2 separate regions of the Homo sapiens genome follow, and region 2 is linked to region 1. Evidence: fine-mapped expression QTL. Tissue or cell type: lung. Region 1 holds a variant in brackets; the other region holds the start of a gene. All regions are shown on one strand. Distances are from middle to middle.

Region 1 (5,385 bases):
AAAAAACTTTTAGTAAACAAAGGCTAATTTATTATTAAAGAAAAATACACATTTTTTAAATTTAGCATAGCCTAAGTGTACAGTGTTTGTAACATCTACAGTAGTATACAGTAATATCCTAGGCTTTCACATTCACTCGCCACTCGCTGATTCACCCAGAACAACTTCCAGTCCTGTAAGTTCCAGTCATGGTCAGTGCCGTATAGGTGTGTACCATTTCTTATCTTTTATATCATATTTATACTGTTCCTTTTCTATATTTAGACATGTTTAGATACACAAATACCATTGTATTACAGTTTTCTCAGTATTCAGTATAGTAACATGCTGTAGAGGTGTGTAGTCTAAGAGCAATAGTCTATACCATATAGCCTAGTGTGCAGTAGGCTATACCATCTAGATTTGTGTAAGTTCACTCTATGATGTTCCCACAATGACAAAATCACTTCATGATGCATTTCTCAGAATGTGTCCCTATTATTAAGCTATGCATGACTGCATCTACCTGGACTCATCACATTTTCCTCATTACTTTCTCACTTCTGAAGAATACACTTATGGCCAGTTGTTTTATAGAATGGCCCTTGATATGAGTTTGTCTGGTATTTCCTCCAAATTTTTGACAGAGAACTATGTAAGTGATGTTACATCCTGTTCAATGCATAACATCAAAAAGCACTGCCAGGTGTGGTGTCAGTCTGTCCCTACACAGATGATACTAGCTTTGAACATGTGCACAATGTAAGTCTGCCACATTTTTCCACTGTAAAATTATCATTTATAATTATGATGCAATGTATCTGGCAATACTTTAAGATGGCCTGAGATTGGATAAGACCACAAGACATGCTCTCTTGGCTTTCTTTCCTGCCTTCTCACTGGAAATTTCTGTTTTGTCTTCTTCAATGGTTTCTTGTGTTCTCCAAGAGAAAACTCATGACCTAGTACCTGGTCTGCTCTTCTCTATGTATACTCACTGTCTTGTGATCTTATCCAATCTCATAGCTTAAATTCCATCTCTATATTAGAGATTCCTGAATAATCACTATTAATTTATTCCTAAAATAAATATATTTATTCCTAAAATTTATGAATTTGATGTCCAGTCTTCTCTCCTGGGCACCAGACTCTCATATCCAGCTGTCTATCTGATATCTCTATTTCGATGTCTAGTTAATGTTCCAAATTGTTTTAAACTCAGTGCTTGATCCTCCTCCCTGACACATACACAGCCTGCTCTACTTGCACACTTGCTCAAATCAGTTGATGACAACTCTGTACTTCCAGGTTTTCAGCCCAAAATTCATAAAGTCATCCTGGACTTCTCTTTCACACTCAACATCTATTCTATTTGACTATTCAAAAGATTCAAAAGCAGAACTCCTTAGAGAAATGGCTAATTCTGGGGTTGGGGCGGAGAAAGTAGTAAGCTGTGATTGCACTACTGCTCCACCCTGGGTGGCAGAGTGAGACCCTGTTTCCAAAAACAACAACAATGAAATCACTAAGACAAAGCAAAACTGTCCAAATACAATAAACTACAAGTATCTAGAATTATCTACATTATATGCTCCATTGTACCAATCTAAAAAATGGCAAGCCAAATATATGTAGTCAGATGCATGCTGCTTTAAAAAAAAGAAAATTCAGTATTTAGATCATATCGTTTATTGGATAACACTTCACAATTACTTTAAAAAAAATATATAAAAATAAGGCCATGGCTGGGGGGTGGTGGCTCACGCCTGTAATCCCAGCACTTTGGGAGGCCAAGGAAGGCAGATCACCTGAGCTCAGGAGTTCGAGACCAGCAGAGCTAACATGGTGAAATCCCATCTCCACAAAAAATATAAAAATTTAGCCGGGGATGGCAGTGAAAGCCTGTGGTCCCGCCTACTCAGGAGGCTGAGGTGGGAGGATCACTTGAGACCAGGAGGCAGAGGTTTCAGTGAGCTGAGATGGCACCACTGCTCTCCAGACTGGGTGACAGCAGACCCTGTCACACACACAAAAAAGCTGTAATGTAAAAGGAAGACAATGATTGCATAAAGTACACCACACTTCAAGAGTTCTTGTAAATTTTCCTCAAATTTTTACTGAATTGTTTCAAATGAAATCTCAGGACCTACAGCAATGTTTATGAATTGAAATTGATTTTTTTTTTTTGAGATGAAGTTTCGCTTTGTTGTCCAGGCTGAGATTGTGCAGTGGCGCAATCTCAGCTCACTACAACCTCTGCCTCCTGGGTTCAAGTGATTCTTGTAATCCCAAGTAGGTGGGATTGCAGGCGTGTGCCATCACACCAAGCTAATTTTTGTATTTTTAGTATAGACGGGTCTCACCATGTTGGCCAGACTGGTCTCAAACTTGTGACCTCAGGTGATCCACCCGCCTTGGCCTCCCAAAGTGCTGGGATTACAGGTGTGAGCCACCATGCCTGGCCTGAAATTGATTTATAACGGGTAGCAATAACACTATACATATTTGTTTATATCAACTGGGGAAAAAATTACAGAAGAGACTTTGAAAATAATTACATGTATTTACCTGTTCCTGGATGTTTAGAAATTACAGCTTTAGCTAATATTATGCCTAGTAACTTTGAAACAGAAATCCGCACATCATAATTGGAACCTTCAAAGGACTTAAAACACAGTGTGGCCACACTGTCCAGGTCCGTACTCCACATAAAGATGGCTTCATTCTGAAGTTCAAGGAGACACTATTCAATTGGACAAAGAGAAATTAATGAAAAATAAAATACAAATGTCAGGTTCAGAGCTATGTAAGTTGCAGAAACTATCAGCGTCTAACAAATAATATACAAATTCAAAGTATCTATTATGATTACAGGAATAATAAATGGATACTTATTAAAAGTCATAAAGATTATATTATAGAAGAGAATGAACCTACAAAAGGTGGGAGGAGAACCCATTTCTAACTCCACAGGTTATGAAAAATGCCTTTAGAATCAATCTATTGGCTATGAACAACTGGGAGAATAATTCCAACATTAAAAAAACTCTGGCTGGGCACGGAGGCTCACACCTGTAATCCCAGCACTTTGGGAGGCCAAGGCGGGCGGATCACGAGGTCAGGAGATAGAGACCATCCTG[G/A]CTAAGATGGTGGAACCCCGTCTCTACTAAAAATACAAAAAAAAATTAGCTGGGCATGGTGGCAGGCACCTGTAGTCCTGGCTACTCAGGAGGCTGAGGCAGGAGAATGGCGTGAACCCGGGAGGCAGAGCTTGCAGTGAGCCGAGATCGCGCCTCTACACTCCAGCCTGGGCGACAGAGTCTCAAAAAAAAGAACAAACAAAAAAACTTTACTGTATTCTCTTACCAACTATGTTAAGAAGCTATAAATTAAAAATAAAACAAAAAATCACTTTGAAACAACATAAACCTCACATGTAAATTTTAATTTACACAATTACGGAGAAAACATAGTAGAGTAGAATGAATACTTAAGATTCTGGAAACCTGAACTTCCTACCCTCTGACAATGTGTTGCTAACTCTTTGAACCTTGGGAAATTCATATAACTCTGGGCCTTAGTTTCCTCATATGTTAAAATGAGATAGTCCTAGCTGACTACCAAGATCATGTAGCTTTTACTAATGCTTTCACAAAGAAGCTGATTTACTTTTCTTTATATTAATTTTTAAAGTCTGCTTATTAGATCATTTTACCTTTGCAGCAGCACAACGAACAGCCATGGATCTATCTGTCAAGCAGGATCTAGCAGCTTTATAAACATCCCTGTGACAAGGTGCAGCGGCAGCTCCTAGTCCATTCAATATATTTTGCAGACTTAGCATAATCTCATATCGGCCTTGAGACTTCCAAAAAGAAAAAAAATTAAATAGGAAAAATAATTAAACTGCAAAGAACAGGATTAAACATTGATATCTGTCTCTCATACTGAAGAAATATCCAGACTTCTCTACATACTAACCAACCCATTATGACATCAAGAAACAAGTTACTATTTTATGAAATATTATTTGAAAAGTTACTTGTATACACTGATTTTCAACATGATACAAATTTCACAGGGTTGATGTGAAGATTAAACAAAATTACATGAAAAGTGCCTAGCAAAAAGCTTACATGCCATTAAGCATTCAATAAATAGTTGCTATAGTCTAAGCTAACCTATTAAAAATGCAGGGTCTGCCATTTACTAGATAGGACCTTGGGCAAATCTGTTCCTTCATCTAAAAAACAGAGGTAATAGTATCCCTCATAGGCTGTTGTAAGGAATAAATGAGTCATACACACAAAGTGCTTACAACAAGCCCAGACATACAACAAATGTTCAATAGATTTGGTAGCTATACTTTGTTATTATTTATTGGTTGGAACAGCTTAACTCACAGTTTAAAAGTCTTGGCTTTAGAATTGAAAAAACCTGGGTTTGAACTTCTCTGTGACCCGCAGTAACTTTGTGACTTTAAATTGTTCTTATTTCCTCATCTATAAAATGAGGATAAGATGAACCTCATGGGTAAACATTCACCACAGTGCCTGGCACACAGTTAAAAGTCAAGAAATAGTAGCTGCTTGGCTGGGTGCGGTGGCTCACACCTGCAATCTCAGCACTTTGGGAGGCCAAGGTGGGCCGATTGCTTGAGCTCAGGACTTCGAGACCAGCCTGGGCAACATGGTGAAACCTTAACTCTACAAAAAATACAATTTTAGTCAGGAGTGTTAGTGCACATCTCTAGAACCAGCTACTCAGGAGACTGAGGTGGGAGCGTGGTAGTGCACACCTTTAGTCTCAGCTACTGAGAGGCTGAGGTGGGAGGGTGGCTTGAGCCTGGCAAGCAGAGGGTGCAGTGGGAGGCAGAGGGTACAATCGGAGGCAGAGGGTGCAGTGAGTACAGACTGCACCACTGAACTCCAGCCTGGGTGACAGAGCCAGACCCTGTCTTTAAAAAAAAAGAAAAAGAAATAGTAGCTGCTTATTTTATTAATGTTTTACTAAATGCCTCAAATCATATCTATATCCCAGGAAGTTGGGCCACTGAAGGTAGAGAAGTTGGAGTTGGAGGAAGACAAAGATCAGCATCAAGAATCATTTCATAGTAATATTGTTAATTTATCTTTGTTTAAAGGCACTTAAAAGTCATAGGTGAACATAATAAAATAATGCTAACGAGCAACTTCAGAACTTTTCTTTTATTCCAGTTCCAAATGTTGTGTATCACTGGTGAGTGTGGACATCTCTGAAATGTTGTGATACCTGATCAACTAAATCAAAGATCAAAAGTAGGGAATATGGCTCAAGGATGTTAGTTAAAAAAATTTAAAAAATAGGGGAGCAACAATATACTTATCAGTAACTTACAACATTTTCATAACTATAGAGTAATCCTCT
Region 2 (5,385 bases), 26 kb after region 1:
GGCGGTGGCTCAAGCCTGTAATCTCAGCACTTTGGGAGGCCGAGGTACGCGGATCACGAGGTCAGAAGATGGGAGGCCATCCTGGCTAACACGGTGAAACCCTATCTCTACTAAAAAACAAAAACAAAAGCAAAAAACAAAACAAAAAAAATTAGCCGGGCGTGGTGGCTAGCACCTGTAATCCCAGCTACTCGGGAGGCTGAGGCAGGAGAATGGCGTGAACCCGGGAGGCGGAGCTTGCAGCAGCCCAGATCGCGCCACTGCACTCTAGCCTGGGTGACAGAACAAGACTCTGTCTCAAAAAAAGAAAAAAAAATTAGATGGGCGTGGTGGCACGCGCCTATAATCCCAGCTACTCCGGAGGCTGAGGCAGGAGAATCGCTTGAACCCAGGAGGCGCAGGTTGCAGTGAGCCTAGATGGCGCTACTGCACTCCAGCCTGGGGGACAGAGCGAGACTCCATCTCAAAAAAAAAAAAAAAGGAGAGAGTTGCCAAAATTATAAAACTTTACACTAGGTAAATGTAGCAGAAAAACCATGCCCTTCCTCTATCATTACACACTGCAGATCCAGAAGCATTTATGAGTCCTACAATTACCTGACATTATAATGAAAAACCAAGATTAATAAGTAAAAGTGAGGCTGGGCGCAGTGGCTCATGACTGTAATATCCCAGCACTTTGGGAGGCCGAGGCGGGCGGATCACCTGAGATCAGGAGTTGGAGACCAGCTTGGCCAACATGGTGAAATCCCGTCTCTACTAAAAATACAAAAATTAGCCTGGCGTGGTGGTGCATGCCTGTACTCCCAGCTACTCGGGAGGCTAAGGCAGGAGAATCACTTGCACCGGGGAGGTAGAGCTTGCAAGTGAGCCAAGATCGCGCCACTGCACTCCAGCCTGGGCTACAGAGCCAGACCCTGTCTCGATAAAAACAAAAACAAACAAACAAACAGAAGAATTAAAACTGAATTTAATCTATTTCCTCCTACAAAAGATTTAGTGATTAAGCACTTAAGAGCTCTAGTTCAGGGGTCCACTAATTTTTTTCTGTAAAGGACCAGACAATACTCTAGGCTTTGGGAGCCATACGGTCTCTATCACAACTACTCAAAAACAAAACATGCACAGCCATAACGAAGGAGCATTGTTGTGTTCAATAAAACTTTTATAAAACTGCCAGCAGAGCAGATTTGACCCACAGGCTGTAGATTGCTGAGCACTATTTTAATTCAAAAATTTAACACTAGAACTAGACAAGGGATCTAATTAAGTGACACAGGCAAGTCTTTACTAAGTTTTTTGGCCCCAGTTAATTGATTTCTCAAATGAGATTTAATAACAGTTTCTCAATGTCTCCTGAAAAAGCAGAAGTGTTATTTATATGAGGACTGTGGTCTCATTAAAGGATTGTTCAAACTCTTCAATTATACTATGGGATAATTAATGAACCACACAAGACTCAATAGAGCTTTTTAAAAAAATGCAGATGTCATTAAACGCTTAATTCAGAATAATTTTAGAATTTAAAAAATTCAGAATTTAACCCTTATGTTATTCATAGTTAAGAAAGACTATTATAAACTACCTCAACCTTTTTGAAACAAAGCAAGAAGAAAGGTAAGTGTATTGGTTAAAGACAAGTAAAAAAATAATTTTTTTCTGTAGATAATATATTCATTAGTTTAATGTAGTTAATTTTAATTAATAATTTAAGAATTAAAAAGGTACTTTGGAGTCATGTATTTTCTGTGACTAAAGTCAGATACAATAATGAATAATACTAAAAAAGTGACCTAATCTAACATCCATAAATAGTGGAGGGAACTTAAGCTAGAATTCAGGTCTCCTGACTTTCAGGTGAGGAGTCTTTTCTTATTCTCCTATTCTATAGTCATCTAGGTAAAACAACTGCATTCCAAGGCACAACAAATCCATACTACAGTATTCTCCAACTGTCACTATTCTTATATTATAAATCCTGCCTGCTTATCAGTGAAGAAAAAAAAAAAGTCAATGGCATTAAAATGTAACACAAATCTCGGCTTCGATACTTTATCTAAAATTACTTTCTCAAAGACATACTTTCTAAAATGTTTGGAAAATTAAACAAAATTCTCCTCTCCCCATCCAACTAATGCTCAATTCTAACCACACTTCTGCTTTCCCTACAGCTTAAGTAATTTCACTGGGAGTATTTTCTCTGGAAGTTCTTAAGTGTACTTGTGGGCCCCTTTTTTTCCTCCTTAAACTTCTAATATCTTTCAGGCTGTAAATTCCTTAAGGGCGCCTAGCCCCAAAAAAGTGCTGCATATTTGTTCAATAAATGAATGCACATAAAAACAATGGATAACTATGACCTTTAATGTAGGAGCTCAAGCCATTTTATTATTATCTGACTTGACAGTCAAGAAAATTATCCCAACTTGCCAGAGGTATCCATTACTGTGATAAATAAACACTATAAAACGCTTTATAAAGTTTCTAAAGACTTTATAATCACTTGAAATAACGCCGCGTTGGCCGAGAGTAGGGTGAAAGAAAATGTTTCCTCACACTAAGCAAATGCCACCAAAGGAAAAGCTTTCTTTCCTGGAGAGAACTGCAACAGTTAGAAAGCAAATATCCACACTCTCCACTGCTCCCTTCTGGGAACTCTCTTTGAGGGTTCCTGCAGAAAACGAACGGGCCTCTGAGGAAGCTCGCCCGAAGGCCGGGCCGGGGCCCGGCTCCTGGCTGACCACTGGCGCAGCGGACGCCGCAGGGCGGGTCCCGGGAGCGGCGAGTTGGCGAGGCGGGCTCCGACTTGCTGACCTTCCCCACACGCCCGGCAACCCCGGCTCCCGCTGGCGGGCAGAGTCCACGCCTACCTGTTGTGCACAGGTGAAGCCAGACTTTCCCGTAGTCCAGGAGGAAGAACGGACCACGCTGTTTATCAGCCGACCCTGTGCCCCAGTCAGCCCCTTCTCGGCGGACTCCAGCCCTTAGGGTCAAGACACCTAGCCCCTCGACCGGTTCTCCCACCGGCTTCTTTCGCGATCACATTGCTGCCGCGACCACCCTCGGGATCCCCGAGCGCTCAACTCATACAGCGGCCCTGGTGCGTTCTCCTTCCCAGCCAACAGGCAGCCCAGACACAGCCCCCTCGCGCCCGGAGGTGTCCCCGCTCCCTGGATCCCCGACTGCCTGCCTTTGGGGGTCCTCCTCAGCTGAGCGTGCGTCCCGGTCCAGCAACGTTACCGGCTGCTCTGCTAACCCTAGCAGAGTCTGGAATTGCCGGCGGCGGCGACAGCGAGGCATTGAGGTGGGCGGGGCGCGCGTGGGGCGTGGCCGGAAAGCTCTCAGCGGCGAGCACCGCGGGAGCTAGCGATTGGGAGCGCGCCCTGCGCCGGGCCGCTGGTCCAAGGCCCCGCCAGCTGGCCGCCGAGCCATCGAGCGCCCACTCTGGCAGGCGTGACTGCTTCACCGTCGAAAGAGCGATGGAGACTGCGGCCCAAGTTAGGATTAGGACAGCGGTTTTTCAGTCCGGAGATTCCGGCCACAACTATTTTTGTCTGTTTTTATCGTAAGCCAGAGTCTTTGGGTGCAGCTCTGGGACACCTAAAGGGCCTGGAGAAATTCAGGCGGGGCCAGTGCTGTGGGGGTAGATGTTAGACGTGGAAGGGACCCTAGAGAGCCTTGACTGTGAGGACTGAGGTAAAGTGACTTGCTCAAGGTCACATACTAAGTCAATGGCAGAACTGAGACTAATAGCCTCTTACCTTGAGTCATGTGCGTTTTCCCACTACACTCAGCGTTTTAAATGTCATTTTTCAAGTTTCATTTTGAATCTATCTCCAGCTTACAAAAAGGTTGCAAGTATAGTACAAAGAACTTTTTTTCCCTGAATTGAGATTTAAATTGCTGACACCATGCCACATTGTCCCTAAGCACCTTCTACATAATCACAATATAACCATCAAAATCAAAACATTTACATAACTCGGCGTTTTACCAATTGTCCCAATAATATTGTTTATGGTAAAAGATTCCGTTCAGAATCAGGCATTGTATTTACTTATCATGTATCTTTCCTACTCTTCAAACTGGAACTCTCAGTCTTGCCTTGCCTTTCATATTCTTGACGCTGTTAAAGATTCCTGGCCAGTTATTTTTGTAGAATGGCCTTCATTTTGGGTCTGTCTGATATTTACTCATGATTACATTTAGCTAGGTATGACAGGACTCTAGAAGTGTTGCTGCTTTCTTCTCATGGCACCCTATCAGGTGGCACGATTTTAACTTCTCTCATTACAGATGTTTACTTTAATAAGGTGATGTCTGTTAGGCTTGTCCAGTGTGGTTACTTTTTTCCCCCCTTTGTAAATTAATAAGTATTTTGTGAGGGAGACTCTGAAACTCTCCTTTCAAGATATTTGTAAATATCTTGTTTCTCATCAAATCTTCAGTTAATGTATTTATATTAATTAGTATGGATCCAGAGGTTTCTATTTTGTTAAATGACTTATAATCCGTTTCTTTCTCTCTTTTCTCTCTCTCTTTTTTTTTTTTTTTTTCTTGAGACAGGGCCTCCTTTGTTGCCCAGGCCGGAGTGCAGTGGCTATTCACAGGTCGATAATGCAATCATGGTGCACACTACAGCCTTGAACTTCTGGGCTCATGTGATCCTTCTGCCTCAGCCTCCCAGGTAAGTAGCTGAGACTGCAGGCATGCACACCACCACACCAGCCAATATTCTGTCTCTATCATTATTTATTTTGATGCTCAATTATCCCAAGTTTGGTGGGTAGGGGCCCCATTCATTCTATCTTCTGTGATATGTGTGTGTGTGTGTGTGTGTGTGTGTGTGTGTGTGTTCAATTTTTTTTTAAGACAAGAAGACAAGGTCTCATATTCATTCTAGCTTCTGTGTTGTGTGTGTGTGTGTGTGTGTGTAATTTTTTTTTTTTTGAGACAAGAAGACAAGGTCTCACTCTGTCACCCAGGCTGGAGTGCAGTAGTCTGATCACAGCTCACTGCAGGCTCAACCTCCTAGGCTCAGGTGATTCTCCCACCTCAGCCACTCAAGTAGCAGGGACAATGGGTGTGCCACTGTGCCTGGCTAATTTTGTTTGTTTGTTTTTGTTTTTGTAGAGACAGGGTTTCACCATTTTGCCCAGGCTGGTCTCGAACTCCTGGGCCCAAGCGATCCACCCGCCTCAGCCTCCCAAAGTGCTGGGATTACAGGTGTGACCCACTGTACCCAGCCTTAAATTCTCTCTCTCTTTTTTTTTTTTTTTTTTGAGACGGAGTCTCGCTCTGTCACCCAGGCTGGAGTGCAGTGGTGTGATCTTGGCTCACTGCAGCCTCCGCCTCCCGGGTTCAAGCAATTCACTGGCCTCAGCTCCT

What was found.
Region 2: it holds the start of HEATR5A, and the variant in region 1 is fine-mapped to the expression of HEATR5A in lung (TOPMed, PIP above 0.99). The same link has a PIP of 0.9 or more in esophagus mucosa.

Annotation. Positions count from the first base shown.
Region 1 is chr14:31,391,505-31,396,889 of GRCh38, forward strand. HEATR5A (HEAT repeat containing 5A) reads right to left here. Exons shown (of 36, transcript NM_015473.4): 5 at 3,695-3,844; 6 at 2,548-2,722. Among named protein-coding and RNA genes, the nearest start is that of HEATR5A, 26 kb to the right of the region's middle. The variant G/A (reference allele first, on the strand shown) is at 3,120.
Region 2 is chr14:31,417,285-31,422,669 of GRCh38, forward strand. It overlaps HEATR5A (HEAT repeat containing 5A), which reads right to left and starts at 3,266. Exons shown (of 36, transcript NM_015473.4): 1 at 3,188-3,266. It overlaps HEATR5A-DT (HEATR5A divergent transcript), which reads left to right and starts at 3,474. Exons shown (of 4, transcript NR_110045.1): 1 at 3,474-3,693; 2 at 4,560-4,684. RefSeq lists a silencer at 2,727-2,846 and enhancers at 2,957-3,006, 3,437-3,586.